Regions from separate parts of the Homo sapiens genome. Here region 1 is linked to region 2. The links come from fine-mapping of genetic effects on gene expression. A gene starts in region 2. The other region holds a variant in brackets. All regions are shown on one strand. Distances are between the middles of the regions. Region 1 overlaps ARHGEF38 (Rho guanine nucleotide exchange factor 38). Region 2 holds the start of ARHGEF38-IT1 (ARHGEF38 intronic transcript 1).

Region 1 (17,010 bases), 26 kb before region 2:
GAACAGACTCTCTTTCTTATCATTATTCCCTAAACAATATAGTATAACAACAATTTAGATGGCATTTACATTGTATTAGGTACCATAAATAATCTAGAGATGATTTAAAGTATACAGTAGGATGTGTGTAGGTTATGTGTAAATGTAACCATTGCATTTTACGTCAGACACTTAAGCTTCCATGTATTTTGGTATTCTTGGTGGATCCTGGAGCCAGTGCCCCGTAGATACTGAGGGACAACTGTGTATGGTATAATTCCTATTCCAGAAAATATTTCAGTATGTTTGTATAAACAATAAGCCAAAATAATTATTGTGCTTATTTCTAAGTGGCAAGACTACAGGTGATTATTTTCCTCTATATATTTTTTCTAGTGAAAATTATTTATATAATGTTGCCATATAGTATATCAAAATTTTAACAGAAAATTCCAACTGAATTCCTGTCAATACAAAATTATATATATTTTAAACCATTTTTTAGAAAACACAAATTTTTGAGCATAAGGCACATGATTAAACCAAATATGAGTAAATTCAAAATAAATACACATAACTTTCTTGTTATAGAAATAAAATCTACCAAGTGTGCATTCAAACACATACACTTGAAATATCATTGGATGGGTAAAAAGATGCTGGTAATGGAGTTTGCCTCTAGGGGAGGAAACCGAGTAGCTGAGGAATTCTATAGCCCCCTTGAGATCTTTGGTAGATTTGCACTATGTGAATTTTAGCAACTGAAAATAATTAAAAAACAAAGAAAAATAAAAATAAGTACAGTACTCAAATTCCTCCAGCTATTCCTTTCAATCACTTTTTGCCCTTTCCATTGTTAGATTAGTCTACTCTAGTTTGATTTACTTTGACTTATAGCCAAAAACATAGAGTATCTCTCACTGCCCTGTTTGGATAATAAATAACTAGAACCTGTTTTCCCACTAAATGTTTCAACACTAACTGATGTGGATAACGTTTGCCTTCTTTGCAAAACCTCTCACAGTGCTGCTATTAAAGAAGATGTGTAACTGCTGAGTTTGATGTATTATCAGTTCGGTAAAGGTCTGACATAGAAAAGCCTTGAAGTTAAGATTAAAGTTTACAGCACGATTGTCACAGAACAGTTGTCAGTCAAGGGCTAGATCTAATCACTCATTTGTACACTGATTCACTCATACAAGGTGACTCAGTTAAGCCAGGAACTTCTGGTACTTTCCTCAGTTTTCAACTTCCTTCATCCAATTTTCACTTAAATAAAATGACTTGTTTTGTTTTGTTTTTACTGGGAGTGGTCTGAGTTTGATTTTGTATAGAGAAAAGATGATGAATCCGATGATACCCAAATTCTCTCCTAGCTTAACCTGTAGTTGTAAAATATTTATGTTGCCCCAGGTTTAGCTAAGCTTGGTTTACAGATTATTGCTATAGTTATCTGAAAACTGTATGTGTTAATCTACACATTTTGACAGTGATGACAGGTGGTTTGTGCTCAAAGACACTGGTAGTTAAATGTCCAGAAGGGAAGTGAGAACAGGAAAGAACTAACGAACATTGAAAAGGTAGTGAACTGAATGAACTGGTGGTGTCAACTAACTACCTCAGCACTCATATAAACGCTGATAAGAGTCATATGAGTACCCGAACATTTATTTACTTAATCAAAGGTTAAAAGTTTTGAGAAGTGGGAAAAAGGCAGATCTGACATGAGAATTCTGAGAACCTTAAGAGAATTGCTATTACCTTAGTGGAGAGAACTAATAGAATGAAATTAAAGTCCACAATGAGGAAGGCAGAGAGCAGACAGCATTGAAAGATAGCTAAATAACAAGGTCAAAGTGTGAAAAATCAACAACCTATAAACAATTCAAATAAAACAACCTAGAAAATGTGAGTTAGAATTTTGAGAATTGTAATTCACAGTATTGAGAGCAAAAGCCAAATGTGCCAAATAAACGACCATAAATGTTACCATAATGGAAAAGTTTTACCTGGCATGGTCTAAGACACCAATTCTGAGAACTGCTTATAAGAGTTTCATAGGAAGCCAAAAACAAGTAAAGAAAAATAACAAAAAGTAAAAGCACAAAAAAGAATTGGAGAAAATATATAAGAATACAGCTATCAATGACATTCATTTTAGCGGGGCTAGTTTGACTCACCAATGTAGCAGATTATTTAAATTGGCAACATTTTCATATAAGGTAAACTTAGTCCATTTGATACAAATGTGGACTAAGAATTCAAAGAAAGACTTTTCTTGTATATTTGATGTTTTTGTCTGTCTGTTTATTTGTTTCTTCTGGAGACAGGGTCTTGCTCTGTCTCTCAGGCTGCAGTACAGTGGCGTGATCATGGCTCACTGCAGCCTCAACCTCCTGGGCTCAAGTGATCCTCCCACCTCAGCCTCCTGAGTAGCCTGGACTACAGAAGCAAGCCACTACACTTGGCTGTTTTTTTTTAAATAGGGATGAGGTCTCCCTATGCTGCCCAGGCTGGTCTCGAACTCCTGGCCTCAAGCAATCCTCCTGGTTGTGCTGATCTTTCCAAAGTGCTGGGATTACAGGTGTGAGCCACTGCAACTGGGCGTGTTTTTTACTGTTTTTTATATTGATCATTAGCCAATCGCAGGGACAGATTTTTGATAAATTGTGCTTATTTTGAAACATGTTTTAGTCACAAATGTTCTTATACCTAGTAAATATTTTATATTTAATTTTAAAATAGACAATGAATATAGATGATTCCTTTAGGATCGAGGAAAACAATTTTTTTGGTTTGTTTGTGTTTGATTTTGGTTTTTAAGATAGTAGATAATAGTGCTATGAATGATTCCATAAGGAGGGTAAACTAATTATTCAGGAGAGAGAAAGGACACAGACTGGAGTAAAACCTTTCAGTCTGAGGGGATAGAATCCACTGCACTAGCAGAGAGAGGTCATCCTTCATTAGAAGCGGGAACCATTGCTTCCGGTAATAGGAGGAAGCCAACTTATATAGGTAGAGATGCAGTAAGTTGGTAGATTTGGTGTTGGGAGTGTGCACATCTTATTGTTTCTAGTTTCTTTATGAAATGATGGAAAAGGGCATAAGCTGAGAGAAGAAAAAGGGGTGTTTGACATGTGAGGAAAAGAATGTGAGAGAATCTCCTCAGAAACATTACTGGGGGCCCCAGTAGAAAGTGGTCATGAATTTTATAAGAGATTAATTCTGCTGCACAGGTAAAGGTGTGAAGTAGACGAAAAATTGAACTTCACTCGAGTAAGTTGTTGCAGGGAAGTAAATGGAAAGAAAGAGAGAAAAAGGAATTGAGGTCGTGTGCAAGGAGCGATTATAATGAAGGACCCATAGAAATTAAAGCATCTTTGGGCCCGATGAAGAGAGAAATGGTAGTAATGTCCATAGTTTGGAGGTCTCGGTGCCATCAGAAGGTTGTCAGAAATCGTACCAGTGGGAGTAGGCTTGGGCATCAGAGAATAGTAAGCTTGAAATTCTGATTTTGAGGGGATGAAGTTGTTGGTAATGGCAAGTTCTAGGTTATGACCCTGGCGTGAGTGGCTGAATGGGATTGAGGAAAGATTGTTGGATATGAAAAAGTGAAAGAACTGAGAGGCCCGAATGTTGCATGGGTTATTTGCATGAATATTGAAATTACCTAAAAAAGATGTCAGAATTAAGGAGGAGAGCGAGAGAGTGAGAATACATAGACACAGTGGGCTAGGTTCCAAATTTTTCAAAGAATAAGAGTTGACAGGGAGGACTGTACCATAAGGAAAGGTAGTGACAGAGTCTGATGCTATGTGCATTTAAAATCAACATTTGAATAAGTATGTAAATGAACATGTTAGTAACCATTGATATCTGCCAGAATAGCAGTTATATCAAATACATCTGGTTTATATGTTAATAAAATAAAGAAAACACAGCAGAAAACATTTATATACGTAGCAATGACACTAAAGAGCAAATTTTTATCACGACCATCAATATTACTTCTACTCTTACATCATGAATAAGAAATTTCCAGGTTTTCAGAAAGTGTCTGGTAATTCTGGCGTGGGAACTGTGGGGGATTAAATGAGAATGCTAATGAAGTGCCTGGAGCAAGATCTGACATATAGTAAGCATTAAATAAAAGTCATGAGGCAAACTGAAGATGACTTCCTGTGTAAGAAAAGGCTTCCATGCCTTCTTTGCTACTCCTCTTTATACATTGTCTTAGACCAAAAAACAATTTTTGTGTCAGAAGTGCCTTGACCTATACTGGTTTTCCCTAATATGTAGGCCAGATGGTTTTTTAAAAAATATTTCTGAGGCCGGGCATGGTGGCTCACGCCTGTAATCCCAGCACTTTGGGAGGCCAAGTCGGGTGGATCACAAGGTCAGGAGATGGAGACCACCCTGGCTAACACTGTGAAACCCCGTCTCTACTAAATATACAGAAAAATTAGCCGGGTGTGGTGGCAGTCACCTGTAGTCCCAGCTACTCGGGAGGCTGAGGCAGGAGAATGGCATGAACCCGGGAGGCGGAGCTTGCAGTGAGCAGAGACAGCGCCACTGCACTCCAGCCTGGGTGACAGAGCGAGACTCTGTCACAAAACAAAACAAAACAAAAAAATCTGAGAAGAGTACTGTGTTAAGAAATATAAAATCTGCTCCTGAATGTTGTAAATAGTTGGGGGCATGACAGGCTAGCAATGCTTTTATAATCATGGGTAATATTAAAATATGTCTCAGAATCAATAAAGTTGGATATATTTGACTAAACATGGCAAAAACAAAATAAACATACATCTTAAACAAGGTTAGAAACCAAAAGACTTACCAGAAAAATTATTTGCAACATGTGGGATGGAAAAAGAATAACTCTAATACACAGAAAGTTCTTATAAAATAATAAGAAAAATATTAAACCATCATTTTTTAAAACAGCAAAAAACATGGATATGAATAACAGAAAAGGCCAATGAATATATGAGAAGATATTTATCAGAAGGAATCAAAAGAACATTTATGAAATCAACAAGTCTCAGCATTAAAGAGGATGCAGAGAAAATGCTCTCTGAATCATTATTAATAGGAATGAATATTAAAATCATATTGACTTTCTGTTTGGCAGTTGTCCATTTTATTCAAAATCTTAAATATGCATACCCTTTGACCTAACAATTAATTTCTAGGAATTTATTCTAAGGATATAAGGAAACAAACATCCAAAACATCTCAACCACTGTAATAGTAGACAGATATTGAAAAATATTAGTACTCATAAAAAGATACATGTAACAGATTTATGGATGAAACAAGTATGTTACAAGATATTATTTGTAGTTTTGATCACATTTATGTAAAAATATATGTGCTTGTATATGTATATGTAAGTGTTCAAATAGATGTCTGAGGGGATATGTCTGATTGTGTTAATGGTAATTTTCTTTGACCGTGGAATTTCTGATCATTTTCACTTTCTAGCTTCTGTTTTTCTATATTGTTTGATTTGTGTATTTACAACCCTAATGATGAGTTATCACTCCTTGGAGTCTTTGCCCTTGTATTCCACTTTGCCTGGACCATTCTGTTACCTCCTTCAGTTCTCTGCTCAATGTCCTCCACTGGAAAAGTCTTCATTTGCCACTCTATTTGAAATAGAATGACCACTCGTTTGTCCCCATCTCTCTCTCTCTCTCTTTCTTTCTTTCTTTTTTTTCTTTCTTTCCTTCCTTCCTTCCTTCCTTCCTTCCTTCCTTCCTTCCTTCCTTCCTTCCTTCTTTCTTTCTTTTTCTTTCTTTCTCTCTTTTTTTTTTTGAGACAGAGTCTCACTCTGTTGCCCAGGCTGCAGTGCAATGGCGCGATTTGGCTCATTGCAACCTCTGTCTCCCGGGTTCAAGCAATTCTCTTGCCTCAGCTTCCCAAGTAGCTGGGATTACAGGCGTGTGCCACCATGCCCAGCTAATTTTTTGTATTTTGTAATTTTGTAGAGATGAGGTTTCACCATGTTGGCCAGGCTGGTCTTGAAATCCGAACCTCAGGTGATCCTCCCACCTCAGCCTCCCAAAGTGCTGGGTTACAGGCATGAGCCACAGCACCCGGCCTTGTCCCCTTATTTCATTCCTTTTCCCTGCTTTAGTTTCCTCAGCCATACTTCACACCATATAACATATCTTAATTTTGTTTGCTTATTTATTTATTGTGTATTGTCTGACTCCTCCTTTTCTGCACTAGAAAGTGAACTCCACAAGGGCAGGACTTTGTTTTGTACTAAACTGTAACCCCAGAGCTGAGAACAGTGCTGTTTTGGGGAGAAAGGCACATCATCCCATTGATACACCTGAGTGCTTCAATTTCATGGTGCTAGTGATCCTATTTATGATATGGGAGAGAAAAAAAAATCTCAAATATATATTTACCTTTTTATTTCTCAGGGGCTGAACCACTTCCCTAACACACAGCTCTAGATCATTGAGATAATCCTTTTCTGTCTGTATCAGCTCCTTAATGATCTTTTCCCGCTTTGCCATCATCCTCTTCATATGATGCTCTTCCTCTGGGGTTAAGGTCTCAGCTACAGAACACTCACCCTGTGGAGTCATCTTTTCTGTTAAATGAAAACATATACAGGTGAGGCATTCTGCTGAGGTTTCTTTTTCCTTCATTACAAACAACGCCTTCGAAGGACTTTGTTAACAAGGAAAAAGGCTGAAGGTATCCTCATGATGTTTTCTTAGGAAGTGATATATGGACATTCCCCTACAAAACTATAAGCAAGAAGAAAAGTGGGAGCGAACTTCCTCTAACAAGTGAGTTAAATGATACTCAATTATCGTGGCTTCTTTAAAATATCCCATTGTTGTAGCTTAGCCTATAAAGCCGGTATTCAGCCTGGAGATCAAATGTATAAAAAAAACAGTTCACAACTTCCGTTCACATTTGCTTTTAAATCAAGGGAAGAATTTTAATTAGTAAATGAAATGCCTTTAATTAGTAAATGAAAATGAATTTTGTCACTGCTATTAAAAACAATTACCTCTCATTCTCAGTGGGTAATATCCAAATCTCAATGAAATGGAAAACAATTGCATGATTGGAGTTTTTCTTTTCAATTCACTATCAGAATCCATGAGGAGTGAAGAAGTGGTGGATTAAATAAATTTCAACTGAAATTTTTCATGGTTCATCTTTTATACCAAGCATATCTTGTTATTTCAAAATTCTTGAACTGTCGAACAGAAAGTTTTAATTTAAAAAGTCACAGTACTGGGGAGATAATGAGATAAATGGGAAGCCTCACACATAGCAAAAGTTTATATGAAGTATTCAAGTAAGAAAGCTAAGTATCTTCAAGGACGAGCTCCCCAGAGCAATGTAAAATTTTGGAAGCCACAAACCAGACCACAGACCATGAAATCAAAGTGGCGATAAACATCAGGGCAGTGTGTGAGTCTGTGTATGTAAGAGTGTGTGTAAATGGATTTGCTTCAAGCTTGAAGCTTAATTTTCATCTTAGTCTCTGCAGTTGCAGAAGTAATTATATTTCATTTAAAGTTAACATGATTCTAGTAACTGGTATATGAGACATCTTCAATGTTGACACATTCCCTGAGAATGTGGGACTTTACAAAAGGGCCTATAAAGAGTCTGTACAGTAAAAAATAAATGTACAGGTCACAATGTATGAAAGTGAAAATAAACAGTGTTTTCTTGGCTGACTCCGGGAACAAAGCTAAGACAACTGGAGAAACAATATAGCAGAAGAGTTAATGGTGTGATGTCAAGAGACTGCCCCAGGAATGTGAACAGACACTTTAAAAAGTAATGAGCTCTCTCTCTGGTCCACTAACTTCAGCATTTAAGGCAGAGACTCAATATTCAAACATCTGTGGAGAGTAATTCCAGCATCAGTTTGGAAGCTATACTAGGTTGATCTTTGGACAATCCAGACCCACAGGTGAGTATGTTTGGAACCATTTATCGCCTACCAATCCCTCCTTCATCAGGAAAGCAGGAAGTTTTGACAAATAGCATCCAAAACCACATGGTTTTATGAGATTTGGGCTATTTAGTGCTAAGGAAATAATCCACATGAGGCCGGGAGCAGTGGCTCACACCTGTAATCCTAGCACTTTGGGAGGCCGAGGCAGGCAGATCACAAGGTCAGGAGATCGAGATCATCCTGGCTAACACGGTGAAACCCCATCTCTACTAAAAATACAACAAAAGAGCCGGGCGTGGTGGCGGACTCCTGTAGTCCCAGCTACTTTGAAGGCTGAGGCAGGAGAATGTCATGAACCCGGGAGGTGGAGCTTGCAGTGAGCCGAGATCGTGCCACTGCACTCCAGCCTGGGCGAGAGAATGAGACTCTGTCTCAAAATAATAATCATAATCATAAATCATAATCCACATGAGCTATATAAGAACAGATAATCTATTCAAGGAGAGAGAATGAATGCATGAGATATCCTGTAGCCCTCCAATCCTGATCTATATTATGAGAATTTGGGGGTGCTTGCTAATTTGTTTTTTTGTTTTTTGTTTTCAGAAACAGGTTCTCACTTTGTCAACCAGGCTGGAATGCAGTGGTGCAATTGCAGCTCACTGCAGCCTCAAACTCCTGGGCTCAAGCAATCCTCCCACCTGAGCTTCCCGAAGCACTGGGATTACAAGTGTGAGCCACTGCACCAGCCTAATTTGTAATATTTGCATTGGAAAGTAGAAGCAGCCTGCCTCTCAGTGCCCCAGATTTGAAAAAGCAAGTTACAATCACGTGTCATTACAATGAATTATTTTGGATATGAAAGAGGAAGACAGGACACCTTATGAGAGGAGCTGCAGTGAGGAGGCTGCATTGTGGCCCTTTCTTTTTAAAAATGTGTATATTCAAGATGTACAACATAATATTTTGATGTATTATACATAGTGAAATGATTGGGTGGGGGTGGGGGAGACTGAGGGCAGAGAGGTGTGAGGGACGTCCTTTACTCCTGGAGTATGTGAAATAGAGCACAGGAGGAAATCTCATGCGTAAGAGAGCTGACAAACCAGTATGGACACTGCCCAATTATCACTTAATGTTTCCTTGAAAATAAAAATGATGCTGATGAAAAACTGCTCTGACATTGCTTTTCCAGGTTCTAAACCTTCTATGCCTTATAAAATTAATCTATGAATTATTTGGGATCCTAGCAAGGAGAAGGAAGTTTTTCCTGATCGTCGACAAAGGAATATCCCTAAAACATGCATTTGGGTTCCTTTTAGTTCTAAATTCCAGGACTCAATCACAATGTTAACTTAACCTGCTTCACAGACGTTTCAGTTGCTGCACTTTAAAATGTACTACATCAGATTTTGTCAATTAAAAAATGCTTAGGTTTTCCAATACTGCTCAACAACTTGTTGAGAACAAATTTGTGGGGGCAAGGTGGGTGAAATAAAGTGTCAGTGAAAATACTCAACTTCTCCCTCAGGT[G/A]TAAAAATCTCTCAGAGAATTTACAGTTGAGCAACCTTATGAGATATCTTTGTTTGCTCTTTTGACTCAAGTTTATTGTAGGAACAAAAACTTCACTTGCATCATTTTATGGTCAGGTTTCTAAACACTTTCTATGTTTGCATTTCTTAAACCAACAAACTCTGCAATGCATTGTGGACACATTTTGTTTTTGTAAGATCTTTCTCTGCATTTAAACATTTTATCTTTTAGTTATACTTAGCTTTTATATATAAAAGTATTTGGAACTCAACAATATTGCCAACACATATCGCCCAAATCAGCAGTCAGCTATAGCCCGTCTTTTATTTCTGGATGAAGCAACCGAGGGGGCCTGGCGCAGTGGCTCATGCCTGTAATCCCAACACTTTGGGAGGCCGAGGTGGGTGGATCACCTGAGGTTAGGAGTTTCATACCGGCCTGACCAACATGGAGAAACGCCATCTCTACTAAAAATACAACATTAGCCGGGTGTGGTGGCACATGCCTGTAATCCCAGCTACTTGGGAGGCTAAGGCAGGAGAATCACTTGAACCCACCAGGCGGAGATTGCAGTGAGCCGAGATAGTGCCATTGCACTTCAGCCTGGGTGACAGAAGGAGACTCCATCTCAAAAAAAAAAAAAAAAAAAAAAAGCAACGGAGGGGCTATTTAGGAAAGAAGGAAAAATTGTTTTAAGAATAAATGTTTCCCAATAGTTTGCATATAATAAAATACAATGTCAAAGCCAAAGTGAAACTAAGGTTAAAAGGATATTCAGATTGCTATAACAGAAATATGCAGCTGTATATTAAAGCAGTACCATGTAATTGACTTCACTCTGTATTTCTTTCACACTCAAGCTTTATTTTTCCAGTGGTGATGTGAATTTTTACTATTCTAGCCACAAAATTCATTAATAATATATGTGGAGATTCCTGGCCAAGGAAGTTTATATAAAAAGAGGTTGTTGCAGTTTGGGAAAAGGATAATCTGACTTGAGATCAGCTCTGCCACTCAGCTGTGAGAACACAGTAGACTAATAACTAATAGTTATCCTCACAGAGCCTTGGTTTCCTTACCTGTAAACTATGCATGAAAACCATCACAGTGTGATCATGAAGACTGAATTAAATGAGCAGCTCCATGTGGAAGCTCCTTGAGATCTTTAAAACAATACAAATGTTAACTATTTCTGTGGGAATGGGAAAAATAGGGTTACTTTCTCTACAGTCTCAAACTCTTCCACCATCTAGAGCAAACAATTATCCCATTATTTTGTGGTTACCAACTTGTCAAGAAAAATGCATGACTCTAAAGTGGGTGGACAGCTAGTTCAGTTGGAAGAGGAAGAGGAAAAAAAATAGGGATGCTGCTTTCGGAGGAAAGTCAGAACAAAGCTGGGGTTTAGAATCCTGAGCAGTTTATCTGGCTTGGGTATATGCGTGGGGAGAACCTCGATCTCTTAGAGAAGTGCAACAGCACCCAAAGGCAAAGGGGTGTTGGGGGAGGACTGAAGACAATCTTCACTGATAGCCACGTTTTGCTTAGAATTTATCCTATCCTGTTTTTCCTTTCTTCTTGCTTTTGCTACTACTACTGCCATTTTGGGGTGGATTTAAGGAGAGGTAATTTCTTTCTTTCTTTCTTTGTAAATTATAAAATAATATGTAATTGTAATATCTATCTAAGTTATATATAGATAGACATAGAAATAGCTATAGCTATAGATAGATAGACATAGATACAGATAGAGAGAGAGATGTAGATATAGTAGAGGTTTAAGTGCATAGCCTTGGGAGCCAGACTGCCTGGGTTCAAACTCCACCACTACCATTTATTAGATCTATTACCTCAGACAAGTTACTTAGCTCTTCCTGTATCAATTTTCTCATCTGTAAGTTAAGGATAACGTTAGTAAAGCCTTATAAAGTGATTTCGAAGATTAAATTAGTTAATGTCTGTAAAACACTTGTAACAGTGCCTGGCATTATACTGGATATCTTGAAAATGTTTTATTATTATTAGATGCAATCCCTATTTATTAATTGTAATATTATTTTTACTGTATTATTGGTTGTATTCTAGTGTAGTGTATAGGCTTCTCAAAATATCTCCATGCACATACAAATACACATATTTACAGAAGTTCAGTTTTTTGTTTTATTTTTTAACAGTAACAAGCTCATATACATATTCTTCTGCAACTTGCTTTTGCAACTATAACAGTATATAGTGGGGATCTTTTTTGTAACAACAGCATAATTGTGTCAGACACTGCTGTTGTCTGCACAGTATCTATTCTCCTATTTGTTTTTCATGAACTGAACCATAAATAGATAAAAATATTTATTTATTGGGCAATTTTTAAATCAAGAGTGGGAAAAGGGAACATACTCAGGAAACATATCCAGATAAAGGATCAGAAAAGGAAACACACTAAGTAAAAATAATGCTCCAAAGAAAGAGACATCAATAAAATGATTTGTCTCAGCCTTGGTGGTGATCAATAGAAAAAAAAATAGCATCCCTTAACAATTCAAGGACACTAACTGGCTCTCATATGGATTTGAGATCTGAAATTATTGAATGCTTAACAAATAAATAGTAAGGGCTTACTATGAGCCCAAAATCATCTTAGGCTCTGGGGATACAGCAATAAAAAAAAAATTCCTTTCCTTATGGAACTTTACTTCTAGTTGGGGAAGAAGAACATAAATAATTTAAACAAGTTATTTAGTATACTAAAAGGTGATAAGTGATATAGAGAAAAATAATGCTATGAAAGCTGCTAGGAAGAGCTTAAAACGTGTGCAATTTTAAATAAGATGGCAGGAAAGGCCTGAAATAGAGTTGAAAGGTGAGAGAGTCATGCAGATATCTGGGAGAGGTGGTTTTTAGCAGATGAACTGGTCAGTGGAAAACCTTAAGGTGAGCGTGTGCATGGCCTATTTAAGGAACAGGAAGCAGAGCAATGTGTGGCCAGGTAGGAGGACGCTGGGGAGAGGATAAGAGATTTGGTGGACAGGACAGCTTGGGAGAGATTGTGGAGACTTCTAAGTATTTTAAACATTTAAACATTTTTGTGATATTGCAGAAAAGCTAAAGACATTAATGAACTTTAGATGTTTTTAAATTAAGGATATATGTTAAAATTTCAAGGCCAACCATTAAAATAAAATAGCATGTAAAATTTCAAAACCAGTAGAGGAGAGAAAGCAGTTCAAATGAAGAAAGGAGAAAACCGAAAGAGAAAAACAAATATAAGGCAGTCGATTCAAATCTATGTGTAATCATAACTCAAGTGACCATATTATCAAACTGTATTCAAAAAACAACAACTATATGCCATTTATAGTAGAGAACATAAGCACACAAGAAGATGAAAGTACAAAAATATATACTGAGCAAATACTAATTAAAGGAAGGGTGAGATATAGCTATTTTACACAGATAAAATAGACTTTAAGGCAAAAATAAAAGTGGGCACTATATAGTGATAAAGTGTCCCATTCATTAGGAAGATATGAAAATTCTAATTCTGTATGTACTAAATAACATGATTTCAAAACATGTGAAGCAAAAAGTGAAAGAGTTGAAGGTAGAATTTGACAAATCAGTCTTAATAGTGATATTTTAAACATAACTGTCAGTAACTGATAGACTGTTAGGACAGAAAATATTTACTCCAATAATTAGAGATTACATAGTATTTTTAAGGACACTTGAAGAAATACATTATAAATTAAGTTATAACATTTCAAAGAATTAGTAAATTGAGAACCACAACTACCATGAAATTAATGTAGAAATAAATAACAAAAATAAAATGTTAGGACTCATTTGTTTTGGAATTAATAGAGAACCAAAACCTACAAAATAACTGATGGGTCACAGAAGAAATGACTAAAGTGAATAGAAGATATCTGTTATAAGGATAAGAAAAATATTACAAATTAAAACATGTGGAATGTAGGTAAAGCACTGCTTACAGAAAATTTATAGGCTTAAATTCATATACAAGAAAAGAAGCAAGAGTGAAAATGATTTGACTCTTAACTAAATAAGTAAAAAAAAAAAAATACAATAAGCCAAAAGAAAATAGAATAAAGGAAATTAAGAACAAAGCTTAATGAAATTGAATAGAAACTCAAGTCAGGCTTCAACTGTTCCTTGCAGCTACATTGCAAGGAATACGAGATTTTTTTTTTTTTTTTTGAGACGGAGTCTAGCTCTGTCGCCCAGGCTGGAGTGCAGTGGCATGATTTTGGCTCACTGTAACCTCCACCTCCTTGGTTCAAGTGATTCTCCTGCCTCAGCCTCCTGAGTAGCTGGGATTACAGGCGCCCGCCACCACACCCAGCCAATTTTTTGTATTTTTAGTAGAGACGGGGTTTCACTGGGTTGGCCAGGCTGGTCTCGAGCTCCTGACCTCGTGATCCACCCACCTCGGCCTCCCAAAGTGCTGGGATTACAAGCGTGAGCCACCACACCCGGCCATAGGAATACGAGATTTTAAGAAATCCTAAAACACACACGGAAACACGATACCATGAGTCAGATGCAGAAAATAAAATTGATAGCATAATTATATCCACAAAGTCTTAAGTTACTGAAATTATTAGAGATATAAAAAGGGTACTTAATAGGTTTAAAAAACAAGTAATGGTTTGAAATTATAAGCAAGAAACAAGAGAATATAAAAATGATCAAGTGGATTTTAAAAGATAATACAGAATCTTAAAATAAAAGCTCATAATAATTAAAATTTAATTATTTTGTTTAATCAATAAATGGCTAAGTTGAATAAATAGTTGAGTTGTATAATGAACTAAATAGTAAATTATACAAAGTTAAAGAGATTAATGAACAAGCCAAGAAAATTTTATAGAATGCAATAGACATGTAAAATATGTGAGAGAGGTTAGGAGATGTTGAGGATTGAATAAGAAGGTTCAACTAATGTTTACTAGGAGGTCTAGAGGGTATAATAGAGAATGTAAGGAAGAACATTATTTGAAGTGCTCAAAGCTGGGAGCTTTTCAGAATTTTTGAAAGATGCTATTCCTGAGTTCATTCCAAGATGGCCAACTACATGCAAGCAGGAGAAACATCTCCCACCAAGTGACCAAAACACTGGGAAGACTGGTGCACTCCTAGTAAATCTTCAAAGAAAAGGCATTGAGAGGGGACAGAAGGAAGCCACAGATGCTGGGCTCAAGGCAGAGAAAGCTGGGAATCCTGTATGGGGCTACGGGGCACCGGGACTTGTTCTTGGCCTCCAACTACTCCTGCAGGTGGGGTGAGTTAAACAGACAAGGAGTACTTCAAATAATGCTTCTTCCTTACAGTCTCTATTATGCCCTCTAGACCTCTACAGAACTCTCCACCAAAAAACAAACAGAATAGTCCCGGCTTGGTGGCTCATGCCTGTAATCCCAGCAGTTTGGGATGCCGAGGTTGGTGGATCATTTGAGGTCAGGAGTTTGAGACCAGCCTGGCCAACATGGTGAAACCCCGCCTCTACTAAAAATACAAAAACTAGCCGGGCTTAGTGGTGGAGAATTGCTTGAACCAGGAAGGTGGAGGTTGTAGTGAACTGAAATAGTGTCACTGCACTCCAGCCTAGGCAACAGAGCAAGACTCTGTCTCAAAAAAACAAACAAACAAAGACACAAACAAAAAAACCAGAATATACATTCTTCTCATTGCCACACGGCACATACTCTGAAATCAACCACAAAATCAGACATATAATTATGCTCAGTACATGTACAAAAATCCTTGAAATTTTGCCAACCACTCTCTCAGACCATAGTACAATAAAATTAGAATTAATGACCAAGAAAATTGCCCAGAACCACACAATTACATGGAAATGAAACAACTTGTTCATGAATGACTTTTGGGTAAATAATGAAATTAAGGGAGAAATCAAGAAGTTTGTTGAAACCTATGAAAACAAAGACGCAACATACCAGAATCTCTGGGACACAGCTAAGGCAGTGTTAAGAGGGAAATATATAGCACTAAATGCCCACATCGAAAAGTTAGAAAGATCTCAATTTTACAACTTAACATCACAAATAAAAGAGCTAAAGAAGGAAGAGCAAACCAACCTCCAAGCTAGCAGAAGACACAAACTAATCAAAATCAGAGCTGAATAGAAGATCGAGACATGAAAACCATTCAAAAGATCAATGAATCCAAGATCTAGTTTTTTTGAAAAAATTAATAAGATAGACTGCTAGCTAGACTAATAAAGAAGAAAAAAGATCCAAATGAACACAATTGGCAATGGCAAAAGAGGTAATACCACTGACCTCACAGAAATACAATCATCAGAGACTATTCTGAACACACAATGCACACAAACTAGAAAATCTAGATGAAATGGATAAATTCCTGGACATATACACCCTCCCAAAACTGAACCAGGAAGAAATTCAATTTCTGAACAGACCAATAATGAGCTCCAAAACTGAGTAAGTAGTAAATAGCCTACCAACCAAAAGAAGCTCAGTACCAGAGGGATTCACAGCCAAATTCAAACACATGTACGAATAAAAGCTGATATTATTCCTACCGAAGCTATTCCAAAAAATTGAGGAGGAGGCACTCCTCCCCAACTCCTGCTATGAGGCCAGAATCATCCTGATACCAAAGACTGGCAGAGACACAACAAATAAAGAAAACTTCAGGCCAATATCCTTGGTGAACATCAATGCAAAAATCCTCAGCAAAATACTGGCAAATCAAATCCAGCAGCACATCAAAAAGCTAATTCACCACAATCAAGTAGGCTTCATCCCTGGGATGCAAGGATGGTTCAACATATGCAAATCAGTAAATGTGATTCATCTCATAAGCAGAACTAAAGACAAAAACCACATGATCATCTGAACAGATGCAGAAAAGGCTTTTGATACGGTTCAATATCCCTTCATGTTAAAAACTGTCAATGAACTAGGTATTGAAGGAACATATCTTAAAATAATAAGAGCCATCTATGACAAACCCACAGCCAACAACATACTAAATGGGCAAAAGCTGAAAGCATTCCCCTTAAAAACTGGCACAAGACAAGAATGCCCGCTCTCACCACTCTAACTCATCATAGTATTGGAAATCCTGGCCAGAACAATCAGGCAACAGAAAGAAATAAATGGGATCCAAATAGTGAAAGTATTCCTGTTTGCAGATGACATAATTCCATATCTAGGAAACCCCATAGTCCTGGTACTCCTTCAGTTGATGAACAAATTCAGCAAAGTTTCAGGATACAAAATCAACATACCAAAAAAACCCCACTAGCATTCCTATACACCAAGAACAGCCAGGCTTGATATGCACCAAAATAGAACTTCTTGACAGCATAAAATCCACAGGGCTTATAAAACAGTAACATAATGAGAAAAACTGAAAGTATCTAGGTAACAATGACATGATAAATGAAACTATACCTCACATCTCAATGTTACATGTAAGTGGCTAAATGCTCCACTTAAAATATACAGATTGGCATAATGGATTAAAAAAATCACAAACCAAAT
Region 2 (17,010 bases):
ATTCATAGAATATGCAGAAGAGCTGGATTCAAACTTTATGTGCTTAGCTCCGAAGCCTGGGCTCTCTCCCTTCACTCCCTGACTGGAACTGTCGTGATCATGGTACATCATGTTCTATGTAGTGGAATTTTGCTGGACAGGGAGGCATAGAGTTCAGTTCTGGCAATGACACCCACTTCCTCTGTGACCTGGACAAAGTCATTTGGATTCACTAAATTGATTCACTGTAGAAAGAGAAAAAGAATAATAGTAATATTAAATGATAATAAAAGCTAACATTTTTTAGTGCAAATACTGAGTTTGTTTTGCATTTTCTCTTCAATCTTCACAAAAACACAATAAGATGTATATATATTCCCTTCCTTTTACGCATGCAGAAGCTGACACACACAGAGGTTAAGCAGTTTGCCCAAGGTCACACCACTGAAAGTGGAGGGCCAGGATTCAAACCTAAGCCAGTCTGGCTCCTGAACCTGCATGTTAACCACTGCTCACTGCTAGGAGGTTGTGAGAATTGAGATAAAGCATGAAAATTGCTTAATTCAATGTCTGACATACCAGAAACCTCTCAAAAAATGTCAGTCATTGTTTTTACGACCATGATTTACTTGCCATTATTCTGTATCTGGTTGTGAATGGCTACACCTGCTTTCCCTCTTTTTCTTTTCCTTGGAAATGTTCCAAGGGCAAGAGGGGAGATTGACCATCTATCAGGAAATTGCCCTCCTTGGCTGGAAAAAGCAAAAACAGCAAAGACTGCTACAAAGTCGGTTCAACACCAGGCCTAATGTGCACTGCTATTATTCAGGCTAAATTCAAATGAGCTAGGGATATAGCCCTGGCATGTTGTTTAGCATAATATAATAACATCTGAATTTTAAAAATCTGAATCATTTACCCCAAAGCTAAATCACCAATGCAAATAAGTTTCTGAGCAGTCACTGAGAATGTGCTTCTCAAACAAGTTTAATGGGCAAGGAGATGATTAAACAGCTGTGTCCTGCTAAAGTACACAGCTTATTATTACTTGTAAAATTCTAAGTCATTGTTTATTTAGATTAAGGTTCCCCTCTGATATTGTTTTTCAATAGCTACCAATAAATAATCCTGAATTTAGATTTTCTTAATTGTATTGAAATCTTACTGATCTCTTAGTAAAGAATAGTTGTAGTGAATAATTTCATATACCAAGCTTAAGGTTTTGTTTAATGCCTTACTTAACAGCACTTGCCCTCACCCTAAAAATAATTTTCAGGAATATGCACTTTTATAAACAAAATGCAGTATGTATTCGTTTGTTCTCATGCTGCTAACAAAGACATACTTCAAGAATGTTGGAACATTCTCATACTCCCAACAACCAACCAGGCAGGCACACATACACCATTTGATACTTACTTATTGAGCAACTTTCACAGTCATTTGACTGTGGAGAACACAAAGATAATACAACACAAGAATCTGGCCATTAACTAATATATAATTTCATCACAACACAAATATGTTTATAATTACATACAAATCAAAGAATATTAGAATTTGAAGGTAAGTTAACAATTTTACAAATTCCATAGTCTTTGGAGTTAAAAAACTTTATATCTTTATAGCAGCATGATTTATAGACCTTTGGGTATATACCCAGTAATGGGATGGCTGGGTCAAATGGTATTTCTAGTTCTAGATCCCTGAGGAATCGCCACACTGACTTCCACAATGGTTGAACTAGTTTACAGTCCCACCAACAGTGTAAAAGTGTTCCTATTTCTCCACATCCTCTCCAGCACCTGTTGTTTCCTGACTTTTTAATGATTGCCATTCTAACTGGTGTGAGATGGTATCTCATTGTGGTTTTGATTTGCATTTCTCTGATGGCCAGTGATGATGAGCATTTTTTCATATGTTTTTTGGCTGCATAAATGTCTTCTTTTGAGAAGTGTCTGTTCATGTGATGGACTGGATTAAGAAAATGTGGCACATATACACCATGGAATACTATGCAGCCATAAAAAATGATGAGTTCGTGTCCTTTGTAGGGACATGGATGAAATTGGAAATCATCATTCTCAGTAAACTATCGCAAGAACAAAAAACCAAACACCGCATATTCTCACTCATAGGTGAGAATTGAACAATGAGATCACATGGACACAGGAAGGGGAACATCACACTCTGGGGACTGTTGTGGGGTGGGGGGAGGGGGGGAGGGATAGCACTGGGAAATATACCTAATGCTAGATGACGAGTTAGTGGGTGCAGCGCACCAGCGTGGCACATGTATACGTATGTAACTAACTTGCACAATGTGCACATGTACCCTAAAACTTAAAGTATAATAATAAAAGAAAAAAAAACCTTATATCTAATTTAATATTAATTTTTTAAATTACATATTGGATATTGAGTTGATATTGTGCTTTGTGTTGTGTATATTAAATGAATAAACAACAGCTCTTACCATCAAGATATGTATAATCTAGAAGTAAAGACAGGGTATTGAAGTCATGAGATAAATCAACATTTTCCATTATCTCCCTTAAATACACAAACTGATGTCTATGTACTTCTCCACTTAACAATCAAGGGGCATATTTTTCAAGACTTAATTGTGTTCAACAGCTGACTTCATTATGTCAGTTGTACTTCTTTGTAATTATATTACTTTAACGAAACTTACATAATTAATGAAATATGAGGGTAAAATACCATGTGTATGTTTCTGTGAAAACTGCTTTAATGTTTTGACATAATTTTATAAAGTCAAGTTGCCAAAGCACTGCTGTTATATTAGGAGTTGAATGAGACAAATTTAAAAGATTAAGAATTATTCCAGAAAGATTCTGCAAACAAATCACTTTGCATTTTAAAATATTGGTCAGTATTTAAAAACTGGTGTAAATGGAGTACTTACTATTCAGCCATAAAAAGAATAATATCCCATCATTTGCAACAACATGGATGGAACTGGAGGCCATTATGTTAAGTGAAAAAAGTCAGGCACAGAAAGACAAACTTTGCATGTTCTCACTTATCTGTGGGTGCTAAAAATTAAAACAACTGAACTCATGAAGATAGATAGTAAAAGGATGGCAGGCGAGGTGTGTAATCTCAGCACTTTCAGAGGCCAAGGCAGGAGGATCACCTAAGATCAGGAGTTCAAGACCAGCCTGACCAACATGGAGAAATCTTGTCTCTACTAAAAATACAAAATTAGCTGGGCGTGGTGGTGCATGCCTGTAATCCCAGCTACTCGGGAGGCTGAGGCAGGAGAATCGCTTGAACCTGGGAGGTGGAGGTTGCGGTGAGCCAAGATCGTGCCATTGCACTCCAGCCTGGGCAACAAGAGCAAAACTCCGTCTCTTAAAAAAAAAAAAAAAAGATGGCTGCCAGAGGCTGGGAAGGGTAGTCTGGAGGATGTAGTGGAGGAAAGGGGGATGATTAACGGGTACAAAAACATAGTTAGAAATAATAAGTAAGTCCCAGTATTTGCTAACACAATAGGGTGACTATAATAAAAAAATAATTTAATTGTACATTTCAAAATATCTAAGAGAGTATAACTGGGTTATTTGTAACACAAAGGATAAATGCTTGAGGTGATTGATACTCTATTTTTCCTGATGGAATTACTATGCATTGCATGCCTGTATCAGAATATCTCATGTAACCCATAAATATATGCACCTATTATGTACCCACAAAAATTAAAAATAAAAAAATTAAAACTGTAGTTAGTATAAATAGAATTATGATAACCTGTGACCCATGCAAGCATAGCACAGCCTGGACATCAGTCCTATGGAGAAGTGACACAGTTGAAATCTGAAACAGGTAGCACAAGGTGAAGAGAAATGCAAAAGTGTCATGAGCAAAAGAAATAGTATATTTAAAGGCTTGGTGGCAAAAAAAGATGCGAAAACAACTTAGTGCAGCTGAAGTACAAGTGATAGAGGTTGTGAAAAGGGGACAAGTCTAGAGAAATTCTCAGGAGACAGATCTCGACAATGAGGAATTTTTTAATAAATGAGGGACATGATTAGATTCTCTTAGCAAGATCACTTTGGCCTCCACTGAACTAGATTTGAGAGGGGAGGGTGAGGAGGAAGCCTGTGGGTAGTGAAGTGGCTCTTCGCATGGACAGTCCAGTCACTAGGGGAAAGAAGGAGGGAGTTAAGCTTAGTCTAATTGCCAAGAAGATAGAAAGAACAGAGCAGATCAAGGGAAATTCAAGAGGTGAAATTAGCATGAACTGGTGAGTAATCAATGCAGAGGGTAAAGGAGAAGTCAAAGCTGACTCTCAGATTTCTGACTTGTTAACTGGGTCATGGTGCCATTTAAAGAAATAGGGAACAACAGGAAAAGAGCAGGTAGAGGAGATAAGGTGATAAGTTCTGCTCAGCTCTATCTCATTATATAAAAAAAGGAAGCTAATTTCTAGAGAGAGTAAGTCTTCTACCTTAAGTAACAAAGCCAGAAATTGAGTTCAGAACTTCTGACCAACACTCCCTCCCTGCCTCTATCAGTCCGATTCCCTTTCTACCCGTATAGTGCAAACACCCACCCATAATTCAATATACAGTTTTATTCCAGACAGATCATTACGAAACCCCCAGATATGATTATAAATGTTCTTTCATCCCTCTCCATGCTGCCAATTTCATATCTGCCCCAATAAACCCAAAAAAATCTTGGCTTAGCATTGCGTCGAGCCCTACCAACATACGTTTCACACAGTAAAATCTTTTATCGTTTAAAATCAGTTTCAATGGAAATCTGACCCACAGAAAGATGAATGGAGCAGACTTCTGTGAAATAGGTTGAAAATAATTGCATGTCAGACAGGGTTTGGAGGGGAGCCAGTGAGGTATTAAGTGAAAATGTGGAGGAACAGACCCTCTGAGACTCTGAATTTGAAAGCTCAAATACTGGGGCTGGGAATATTTTATCTTCATTGGAAGGGCATGTGATTTATTTCCTCTGACTGCTAATTGGCATAGAAAGTAGATTAGTGGATTTCAAAAAGGAATTAAACAAAGCTTACCTGTCTTGAAAAATACTGAAGTGGTATTGGTTTGAATTTACAGGCTCCGACAGTGATCAGCATAGCACAGACAGAGCAATGAGGAGTTAAATAAATGGGTACTTCAGAAAATGTTTTTATTTAAAGTCTTTAGCAGAAGATGAGTGTCCCACCTTTCCTGACCCAAGCTTAAAATGTATAAAACCAAGTTGCTGGCTGACCACCTTGGGCAGATGTTCTCGGGATCTCCAGAGGGCTGTGTCACAGGCCATTGGCCACTCATATTTGGCTCAGAATAAATATCTTCAAATATTTCACAGAGTTTGACTCTTTTCATTGACAAAAGTAACACTGTCCTCCAGGCCAGAGATGAGATAGAGTCAAATTGGGAAAAGCCTTACATTCCATTTTAATATTGTAAACCAAGGGCCGCCAAACTTTTTTATCATTTTTTATTGTGGTAAAATATTCAGGACATAAAATTTACAATGTTAACTATTTTTAAGTAAACAGTTCAGTATCATTAAATACATTCACATTATTATGCAATCATTACAACTTTTTCATCTTCCCAAATTGAAACTCTACCCATTAAACAATAATTCCCCATTTCCTCCTTCCCCCAGCCCCTGGAAACCACCATTCTACTTTTTGTCCCTATGAATTTGACTACTCTCATATAAGTAGAATCATATAGCGTTTGTCCTTTTGTGACTAGCTTATTTTAGTTAGCACAATATCTTTGATGATCATCCATGTAGTAGCGTGTCAGAATTTTACTGCAAATGTTTTTATTGTGTCAGTTAAACTGTTCTGTGTATACACCTCTAATATACGTATCATATTAATGTATCATACATATTATGAAGCATGCACAACAATAAATATTTTCAAAGAGCAATACTGAAAAACAAACCTATTTTTTTCTTTGCACAATAGATTGTCTGTAAAATCTCCTGGGGTTTATATATTCCCCTCTTTGGGTACTGCTGCTAGCTATAGAAAAATGAAAAGCAATGAGGAGTGTTAAGCAAAGGAGCCATGTAGTTTGACATTCTGACCCAGTTTTTCACTGAGTACCCTAATCCAGGTAAGTACTCTGTAGTTAGTGATGACAAGGAGTTTTCAAAGACTAGATAATTCAGATAATCAGTTTTGTATTTTTAGAGCAGAATATTCTAGTGTTTCTGTGAAGTATGGACCTTATTCAATGCAAGTACATATCTTTCTAATTTCCAAGCACATAGAACATTTTGTTGAGAGGCATAAAATAACACAGCTACTGAAAAATACTTGTTGGTCACTGTTCACTTCAAGATTGCCGATGAATGTATTGGCAGAACTTACAGTTCTCTTGATGCTTGTGAGTATTGTTCAAAAGTTTATTAAAATCAGTTGATTTCTTAAGAGCAAACCATAAAACAGGTACTACTACTAAAAACTAAGGTTAGAACAGGAAAACTGCATGATGGTTGAAAAAGCCCTGACTTTGGAGCCAAGCAAACCTCAGGAAAACTCTGACTTCACCAGTTGCTATTAATAGCTATGTGACCACTGGGAGAATGCTTATACCTCTCTTAACCTCTGTTTTATCATCTATAAATATATGGCAATAACTTATTTGCAAAGTTGCTAAGAGCATGAAATGACGTACTGCACCTAAGTGCCTACTACAGATGTTCAGTTGGTGTTTGTACCTGCTCTTCCATTTAGAAATCCCCAAATACAAAAATTAGTATTATTACCTTGTTCCATGTATGAGGACCAGCATAATCCCTCTGCCTGGAATGGCTTCTGCCCCTAAAAGTCCTAATTGGATTTCAAGATTCAGATTTCAGTGTATTTTCTTTTGGCATTTCAGAGGTGCAATTAAGCTCTTTCTTATCATAGCTCCTATATTGCTTTATTTGTGTCTCTAATAATAATAACCACTTAATATGTGGTGGATGCCATGTTAGCACCCGTTCCCCTTAAAGGAAGGGATAAATTATTATTTCAGCTGCCGGGAGTGCAACCAGCAGATATGCCCTCTTTAGGAATTATCTCAGATGAAAGCACCTCTCAGGCCATGCCTTTTCCCAAGATAGCCACATCCCCAAACGTAAAGTGTGATACAAGGGCCCAGGTCCTTCACAACACTGGAGACAACTCCAAAAAATCATCTGTCTTCAGAACTTCCCTCAGAGTTGGCTAAAGCTTCCAATGAGACCACATCACAGCTCGGCCTCTCCCTGTGCCCAGGCTTATGTCCTTCCCTTTTCTTCCCCAGGTGGTGGTCACAGAATGTTGCCTAATAATTCCCCTCCACCCGAATCTCTATTTCAGAATTTGCAAGTCGGAAACCCAATTTGCAGTATACTTCAGGCCCTTGTTACATTACTGCAATAATTTGTTCACAACCTGTCTCACTCAGTGGGCTGGGTGTGCTTCTGATATTTTAAAAAACATTCTTAGGACCTAGTCATACCTGGCACATACGAATACCTAGCAAATATTTGTTGAATAAATTCATTTAAAAAGAGATCCTATTTTTCTTGGCCAGGAAACTCTTTCTAGTCTCTTCTTTAATTAAATTTATTTATTTATAATCTTTCTTTACAGAAAAAGAATGTAAAGAAATTAACTGAAAGTTAACTACCATTACATAGTGGGTAAGTGAAAATGACAGAATTGTAAAAGCAAGTATGTCATAAGGATCAATATAGTTGTAATTATTCACTGGATATTTTAAAGTCATTCAATAAATAGTCATTGAGCAGAATAACTGTATACCAGGCATTGCTTAAATGCTAAGTCTTTTTCCCCAAGGAGAATTATATTCAAATGACAGCAAAAGCCAAAAATAGAATGAAGTAGTATAATTTCATAGAGTAATAGATGGTATGAAAGCCACTGAGGGGGATCAGAACACACCATCCCTAAATATGCCACTTTGGGATACTGATTATTTTGAGCTGGAGATGCTCAATAGCAGATGCAGGAAGGGCTCTCTGCCTTTTCCTTTTTTACTTAAAAGCAGAGTGTAAATTTACCATGAGAAAAGTGCCCTCCCTGTATCACCAAGAAGGGAATATTCTCATCATCAGAGACAGGGAGTTGACACAGAGATGAATCTACACAAACAAATCTTACAAAAATAACCCTTATCTTCCATTAGCTTCTCCCATGTATTTCCTAGTCACTTTTCCACAATTTCTTTCCCCAACCCTAAACTCTTTTACTTTGGCTTTGTCATATCTCCACAATTTATGACCTTTGTTAAAATGTTATGTAAACCCCTAGGTCTAACTGCTTCTTTGAGGTTTTTACTTCTTTCTTCCTACAAAGCCTCCTACGACACATAAAAATGTTAACCTCAAGTAAAATGTGTATGCTTTTTCTTTTGTTAGTATGTCTTTTGTCTATACAATTCACAGGTCCTAGTCACAGAATTTAAGAGGGTAGAGGAAAGGTATTCCCTTACCTACATCACTTTAGGTCGGATGGTCAGGGAGGGACTCCCAAAAAAGACGAACAGAGACTTCAGTGATAAAAATCTGCTCTTGCAGAGATCTGGGGAAAGAAACTTTTCTATTCTATTCTATTCTATTCTATTCTATTCTATTCTATTCTATTCTATTCTATTCTATTCTATTCTATTCTATTCTATTCTATTCTATTCCATTCTATTCTATTCTATTCTATTCCATTCTATTCTATTCTATTCTATTATTCTACTCTATTTTTGAGACTCCAGGCTGGAGTGCAGTGGCATGATCTCAGCTTACTGTAACTTCTGCCTCCCAGGTTTGAGTGATTCTTGTGCCTCAGCCTCCCAAGTAGCTGGGATTACAGGCATGCACCACCAACCAGCTAATTTTTTGTTTTGTTTTGTTTTGTTTTCTTAGTAGAGACAGGGTCTCACCATGTTGCACAGACTGGTCTCAAACTCCTGGGCTCAAGCGATAGACCCACCTTGGCCACCCAAAGTGCTGGGATTACAGGCATGAGCCACCACACCCTGCCTCTATGGGAAAGAAACTTTTAGACAGACAAAATAGTTAATATAAAGGCCAGGGAACAAAAACAAATTTGACCCTAAGCTCCTAGCAGCTAAATATAGTAAATTGCTTGTTTTTATCTGGGAGGGGATGTGTTTTTATTCTTAAGGAGAGTCAGCTTTCCATTGAATAAAATCTGAGAGAGGTAAACAATGTCTTCATCAACCATTTCACAACAAACACAGAAGGAGAAATCTGTGATGGCTTTTTGTAGTGACACTGGAGACCTAACATTAAGAAGCATTCAGGAAAAACAGTTTCTGTGAAGTGCTATAATGACTCACAATACTTAGAGTAGTAGCTAGATGACATGACCTTTAAGTTTTCTTCTTTAAGTAAGAATTGTATGTCAGTCTAAGATTGCATCCTCTATCGAGGGCTTCAGTGCAGGTATCTTAGACTATTCATTTATTCTCTGATTCATTAATCAAGAAAAACATTGTTCAGAAAACCTTGGACAAAGTCTTAAATCATAGCACTCTGTGTTCCTGCTGCATTTAAGTTATGACTCACAATTTAAGCTGACTTCATACAATTCTACTGAAATATCACCTATCCAGATAAAAAGTTGCTTGTTTCCCACACATAATTCCATTCTTTTCATTTGCAAATGTATTCCCTCCTCTCATTGCTGTAGAATAGGACTCTCAGTTATTCTGATATATATTAAGTTTTATTGAGATGCAAATAAATGACAACAGGCATAAAATTAAAGAAAGATGAGTTTCAGTGTCAAGATACGCAATGAAGCAGGAAATGGAGATCATTAAGCTATTACTATAAGACAGTTTTGCTTAACCTACCTTTGTAATTTTGTTCCCCGACAACTAAACAAAAAAAGTATTTATTAAACAGTGACAGTCTGGCAGGGACATGCCACTATAAGTCAAAAGAAAGAAAATATATTCCAAAGTGAAAAACAGCAAGTTAAGCTTTATTATGGTAGCAGAGAAATGTCATCACATTACAAAACATGTGCTGCAACCATCAAATGGCTTTGACTTCTTAGTAAATCATATGTATAAAATACCTACTGAGTCAACTAGTTAAATTCATTCCATTTTGCAAATATTTCAAGCATGTGACATCTCAAACCCAAGGCCTACCACCTATTTTTCTCAATGATAAAATCAGAACTGAACAGAAGAGAAGTTGGGATTCAGTAACAGTGTGTGTGACAGCATCTGGCTAGCATAGCTCCTAGCAGATAACATAACACTAATACTCAATCTCTTCCTTCCCTCCCCTTCCCTCTTACTTTCACAACCTAGTATAGAAGAAGGGTTATATCCTGAAATAGATTACAGTCAAAAACCACACATAGCTGCCTCCTTTGTGGGACCTGGAGCAAGGATACAGATGGAGGCCAGCATACCAGATCTACATATTTAAAAGTTATAAATGAAGCTGGCAAACTATTAAATAAAATGTGATATTTCCTTCTGTCTTGATAAATATATTTTATAACAATCTGAAAGGCCAACTTCTAATTTAGATTTCTCATATCCCTCAGAGTTTTATGCCAAAATTTGGCAGGGGACCATGGGACACACGCACTCCTACCTAATCTTGAGGCTTGAATCCCTACTCTTCTCTCTACCAGCTTTCCCACCCAGAGGAACCTGGTAGACATGATCTGAACACTCCAGCATGATCAAGCTCCAGAAACACCCCCATCATCAATTGTGCCTTAGGCCTAAGAGCATGCACACCAGCAACCACAGTCTGCCCTTGAGAGCATGGGATAAGAAGCGGTCCAAGCAAATGTTGGAGCCAGTACTGAGGCCTGTTGAACAGAAAATTCCACAGTCTCAGAAACAGTCTAGAAGTGAAGGTAGGACTCCCAAATAAGCCATAACTTTGAGTCTTGACTGGTTCTAAGAACGATACTGCTTATAAATTTAGCAACTCTTGCAATAATTCTACTTTTATCAGGAAATCAATATTCATAAAGGTACTGATGCTAATATGATTATGGCATCAAGAAAAAGTAATTCTGTAAACAGAGGTTTTTTTTTTTCTTTTCCTGTGTCAACAGAAACAAAGATGAATGTGGCTTGGGTGCTTTTCTCTCTCCCATCATTTCTCCAACTTTATTACTATTTTAAGGTATATTTCTATTCATTCTTGCTGCTTGCTTGGTTTCTGTCTGTCTCTCCCCTCCCCTTCTCTCTCTCCTTCCTTTCTTTCATTCCTTCTTCCTCTTGATGTCTCATTTTGATAAACCCATAATTTTTATAAACAAAAAAAAAAAGCACAACTAGAAATTGTGTTTGCTACTTTTAAGAAAGTTATACCTAAAGTCATATCGGTCAAACATAGGAATAAATTTGCCCATCACAATATGGTAGTAGTAGAATAGCTCAAACAGTCTCAATTTCTGTGACTCACACATTATTTGACACAAATGGTCCTTCTAAAAACTGCAAGATGTCTCTACTGAAAAAAATAGGAAAGTAAAATACCGTGTTTTACACTGGTTTCTATATATGCAGTAAGACAAAAGTTACTGAGTTTTTAAAGCGTCTTGCCTTTTAGAAAGATTTGCCCTTCAAACTATGACACACACCTGTTTGTACTGGTGTCACATTACTGATTCAAATACTTCCCATTTCACTGTAGAGTGTATGAAGGCAGATAAAGGGGAAGGAGCTACTCACTAATCAAAGAACAGACACGAACAAAAAGGGTTTGTAGCACTGGGATAGAAACATGCACAGGAAGCTGGACAATTTGTTTTACTCCATTCTTCATTTGGCCTTGAACAAAACTCACCAAGTCTTCCAGTGTTAATTTCTGCTCCCTGACAGACTGTCTATATTCTTAAAAAACATTTTAAATTAAATGCCCTCATAGTCTTACCAAGTCTAATTTATTATTTGAGCCACTTGTCCCCACATGGCACAATCTGTTATTTTGTATAAAGTTCATACAGTAGGGTGGTTCATCTTTCGCACCATATTAAGACAACTTTGGGTCTCATAAAGATAACCTTTCTTAATTAGAATGATACAATAGCCTTTGCAAAAATAGAAGGTACCACAGACACACTAAGAAATGGAGACGTAATTTTTGCCTTGTGTTACCGGCAGTGGTAATGGGTAATAGCATTTTACCCATGTATTCTCACCTTTTCACCTGGTGTTGGATAAACAAAAATATGCACTGGCCAGAAAATTAACCAGAAGTTTAGTGTGGCCATAGAGGATAAAGGTAATCGACCCGTCTTGGTTGGTTTGGGCTGCTATAACAAATATATTAGAGATTAGGTGGCTTAAGTTTACCAAAAATTTATTTTTCACAGTTCTGCAGGCTAGAAAATCCAGAATCAAGTTGATCTTATTCCTAATGCGGAAGATCTTATTCCTGCTGAGAGCCCACTCCCTGGTTTGCACATGGCCACCTTCTTGTATCCTGACATGGCTGAGAGCAGAGAGAAGCAAGCTCTCTCTTGCCTTTTTTTTTTTTTTTTAAGGGTCACTAATCCCATTCACCAAAGCTTCACCCTCAATACCTAATTACCTCCCAAAGACCCCACCTCCTAATACTGTCACATTGGGGATTAGGTTTCACATAGGAATTTTAGAGGAATACAAACATTCAGTCCATAGTACCCATACTGAGAGGAAACCTATAATGTCAGTGATATAATTCATATATGGTTTTCAGAAAAGACTCCTGAATGTTAGTAAACTTTTGTTCTTTTTGTTCTTCAAATTTTATAGTAACTTTCAATAAAAAGTCTAATCATTGCAAAAAAGTGTCTCAAGTACACACACGAACACATACAAGTACATACATGTATATCTATATCTACATACTGGAGATATATATATATACACACATATATATACACATATATATCTGCATATGCACAGACACAGTTCTGTATAACTATTTAAATTAGGCATATTTCAAATGTAGAGATCATGTATATAAGTATTTATGAAACCCTTTCTGAGTTTTTACAACTCAACCACTAAATTTCTTGTATTTAGGTAATTTCTATGGCTCCCAGTAGAATGGAAATGAGGAATTGAGCTAGTGGAAGTTAAGATGGCTCTTGTCACTAATAGAAGAGGAATTTTTGAAATATGGTTGTTGTGTGCTCTGAAAGGTCGAGTTGGGAATGAAACAGGCTTCCACTAAGAATTACTTATTATATAAATTCTGTACATTTTAATCTCTGATGTTCATTTAACTGAAGAATCATCTTTCTGATAGAAACATGTGTCCTCACATATTTAGATAAATACAATGGCTCTTATTTCAGGCCATGGTGTCTTTCTTCACACCAGTTTCCTGCTTGGGCCTGATCATTCAAGTCATTCACTCTATTTAACAGTTACTGAGTGTTTACTGTATTCTGGGCTGCTGAGATGCAACAGTTAACAAGACAGATAGGGTTTCTTTCATGGTGTATGAGCGGGGAGGGAGAGAAAAGGGAGGGGAACAACAGTCAATAACAGGTGATAAACAAGGAAACAAAAACCATTTCAGACAGAGCTAAATACAGTGAAGAGGTTAAAATGCCATTCTCTTACCTGTACCTTCCCTCATCCCTACCCTTACCATTTCTTAGAGACACCATTTTCTGACAACCTCCTTCATGCAGTCCTGAATAGACCGTTTCCTCCTTTTGTGGACCCACTGATCCTACCTCCACTTCTATCATGCCACTTTATTGTATTTATTTGTTTACCTGTCTTATCTTTCCCAACCAGACTTTGAGCCTCTTTGGAGTAAAGGTCAGACATGTTTTCTTGATGATTTTGTAGTTGTAATTCCTGGCACATATTCTGTTTTTGCTGTTCATTGTAACCCTCAAGACACAGCATCTAAAACATTCAATAAATGTCAATTTACCAAATGTGTATGATTTTACAATTTGTATTCTTTCCAATGTATCAAGGGCCTTGAGAAAAATTAATTTCAAAGAACAAGGTATAACATATTCAATAAATGCTAGTCAACTGAATTAATCTGTTCAAGGAGTAAGGGAGCCTAAGGGTGGCCTTTCTATTATTATACAACTCCAGGCTTAGTAGGAATGACTATGTTGATGTGATCACAATCTTCTGCAAAGGTTTTAGGATGTCCTGGTTAGAGCCATGTTCTATCGTTTTAATTCAGCCAGTGTACCATTTTTAAAATTGTTATTACAACTTAAGTTTCATGCTACTAAAGTGATGTGAGAAATTGAATTGAACAGATAGACTAGGTATCATGAGTTAAAAGACAAGCTCAAGAGCACCAAAGAAAAATCTTACATTTTACGGAACCCAGAGAACTTGCTTCCCCAGAGAGTTAGAGCAGTGAATTTTACTCAGGTAATATAGCATTGAAGGACAACCAATTAAATAACTAATTAAATAACCAGCTAAATAATTTGAGGAATGTGGTGTTGCCAGAAATTCCAGTATTTGAAAGCACTCTTTGACCTCACAAGAGCTTTAGGCCATCTATCTGAGGGCTCTAACCAGTCCAGGTGTTTATTCAGTGCCTCCCAGGGACCACCAGTTCCAAGAAAGGGAGAGGAAAATCTCTCGGCATTTGAATAATAAAGAGCTTCTTAAGGTGATTTAGGACTCATCTGCATAATAATGGGTATCGTACAGGCCAGAGAACAAACGCACAGAACTGATTGCTTTGAACATTAATGAGAAAATGCCTTCCCTTGTCGCCTTCCCTGTTCTAGTCGAACCATGCTAAAAGCTCTATTAGGCGTTCGATAATCAGACTTGGATTCTTTTAAGGGTTACGTTTTTAAGATGTTACTTCTCAGGAGGCCAGCCTATCTTTATGGCTTATGTGCTCCTCTATACTTCTTGGTGATTTTTCTCAAGCACAGACTAGAAGCATGTATTAACTGCTGAGTTTTGCCTTCCACCTTCAAAGAATCCAACAGAGCACAGGAAAGCCACAAATCAAATGAAGTGCGTAAGAAGTCTGAGGTCTTCTGCAAAGTAACCAACCCATGTCTGCTCTCTTGTGTGGTCATAGACTTATTTTTTTAGGAAAATTTAGTAAGCAAAAATTTGTGAATAGCAAAAATTATTTTCTGTTTTTATTTTGCTAATGGAGACTCTGATAGATGCTGAATTAGTGAAACTCAGACAGAAAAAACATGTCATTAGGGATAAAGCAATGGGCTTTTCCTGAATTTCTAGATGTGGTCTCTTTATCAAAGGACAAAAAAGAATTGAAAAAGAGAAATAAGGTATACAAACTTCGATTAATATTGGGCAAGTTCTGTTTTATCATTATGGTACCCATTATTCCTAAAATTTATCAGCCAGTATACTAGATGTTTTGTAATTATCTAATTTCAATCTCCCAACAACACTATGTGGCAAGTATCATTAGTCCCACTTTCACAGACAGGAAAATTGAGGCTCAGATATTTCAAGTAATTTGCTCAAGTTCTAATTGGTAGTAAGTTGAAGAACCAGGTTTAGAAACTAAATGTGTATGATTTTAAATTCTCATGGTACATATTCATCATGGAATACTACACAGCCAGAAGAAAGAACAAAATCATGTCCTTTACAGCAACATGGATACAACCGGAGGCCATTATCCTAAGCAAATTAATGCTGGAACAGCAAACCAAATACTGCATGTTCTCACTTATGAGTGAGAGCTAAACATTAGACATACATGGACATAAAGGTGGCAACAATAGATACTGGAGACTACTGGAGTGGCGAGAAACGGACAGAGGCAAGGGCTGAAAAACCACCTACTGGGTACTATGCTCAGTACCCAGGTGATGAGATCATTTGTACCCCAAATCGCAGCATCACACAAAATACGCAAGTAACAAACACACATATATACCCCCTGAATCTAAAATAAAAGTTGAAATTTTAAGACATCCATTCTTTCCAATGTATCTATTGCTTGGAGAAAAATTAATTTCAAAGATTAAACAATGCTCTCCCTCATTTTAAAAAAAAAGTATTTGAGGATAAGATTGATGCTGTGCTTTAGTGCTGAACTACTGGTAATTTTTTTTTTATTTTTACACATTAACTTATAGTAATAATTTTTAGATTTAATTTAAATGCATTTAATTTAACTTATTTAACTTAATTAATTTGCATAACTAAATCTAAGCTCATATTTGTGGAAAGAGATTTGTTAAATATAAGCATGTCCTATCGGTCTTTCTGACCTCATCACAGTTTTTAAATCCAAAACGACAGCTCACAGTGGGATGATGAGAGTTCAGACACACCTTGTGCTAAAAGCAGGAGAGGCAAGTTCTGGAGGACCACATAACAAGTACCGAAGAAAAGACTTAAAATGCTGCCCAATATCAACATCAAAATGAAATTTTACTAGAACAAATGACCTTCAGGAAACAGGAGAGAAAGAAAGGATAGATAGGACAGGATATAGATTAAGGCCCTGAAACAAATGATGTGCTATCATAACTGTGCCAAATTATCTTTGTACCATCACAAAATAAACTGAAGTTATTTCCTCAAATGTCATTCAAAATAAGCATGCTAAACATTTCTTACCATATTTGAGTATTATTCAATTTACTCAAAGGAAATAATCACCTAAGTGAATTTCAGCAAATCTTTTTATACCGTCTCTCTGACTATAACATTCCTTCTTTGTCACAGACACGATTATAGTTTCATGCCCCTATTTAAGATAACCACAATCATAGTTCAGTACCATTACCTAGATATATCTCATGGTGTAATATCACATATCTACCCATTGAGATAAACAATCTTTTGTAGGTTTCTAACTCATTTGCTTTCCAGTGTTTCCCACTTCTTAAGTTGGGTAGAGAAGGGAGAAGAAAAGAGGAAGTTAGAAGAAAAATGATTACCCTCACCAGGAAAAAAAAAAGAAAAACACAGCAATATTAAGAGTAATTCGGAATTGACTCTTTAACATTGAATCACGTAATAAATTTTTTTCCCTATAATT

Evidence for each region. PIP is the estimated chance that this variant, and not a neighbour inherited with it, causes the effect.
Region 1: its variant is fine-mapped to the expression of ARHGEF38-IT1 in thyroid (GTEx, PIP above 0.99).

The regions. Positions count from the first base shown.
Region 1 is chr4:105,578,830-105,595,839 of GRCh38, reverse strand. It overlaps ARHGEF38 (Rho guanine nucleotide exchange factor 38), which reads right to left. Exons shown (of 14, transcript NM_001242729.2): 2 at 6,405-6,592. Among named protein-coding and RNA genes, the nearest start is that of ARHGEF38-IT1, 26 kb to the right of the region's middle. The variant G/A (reference allele first, on the strand shown) is at 9,461.
Region 2 is chr4:105,553,118-105,570,127 of GRCh38, reverse strand. ARHGEF38-IT1 (ARHGEF38 intronic transcript 1) reads right to left here and starts at 8,537. Exons shown (of 3, transcript NR_046840.1): 1 at 8,481-8,537; 2 at 6,763-6,826; 3 at 1-224. All of the region lies in intron 1 of ARHGEF38 (Rho guanine nucleotide exchange factor 38), which reads right to left. RefSeq lists enhancers at 13,250-13,799, 14,351-14,900.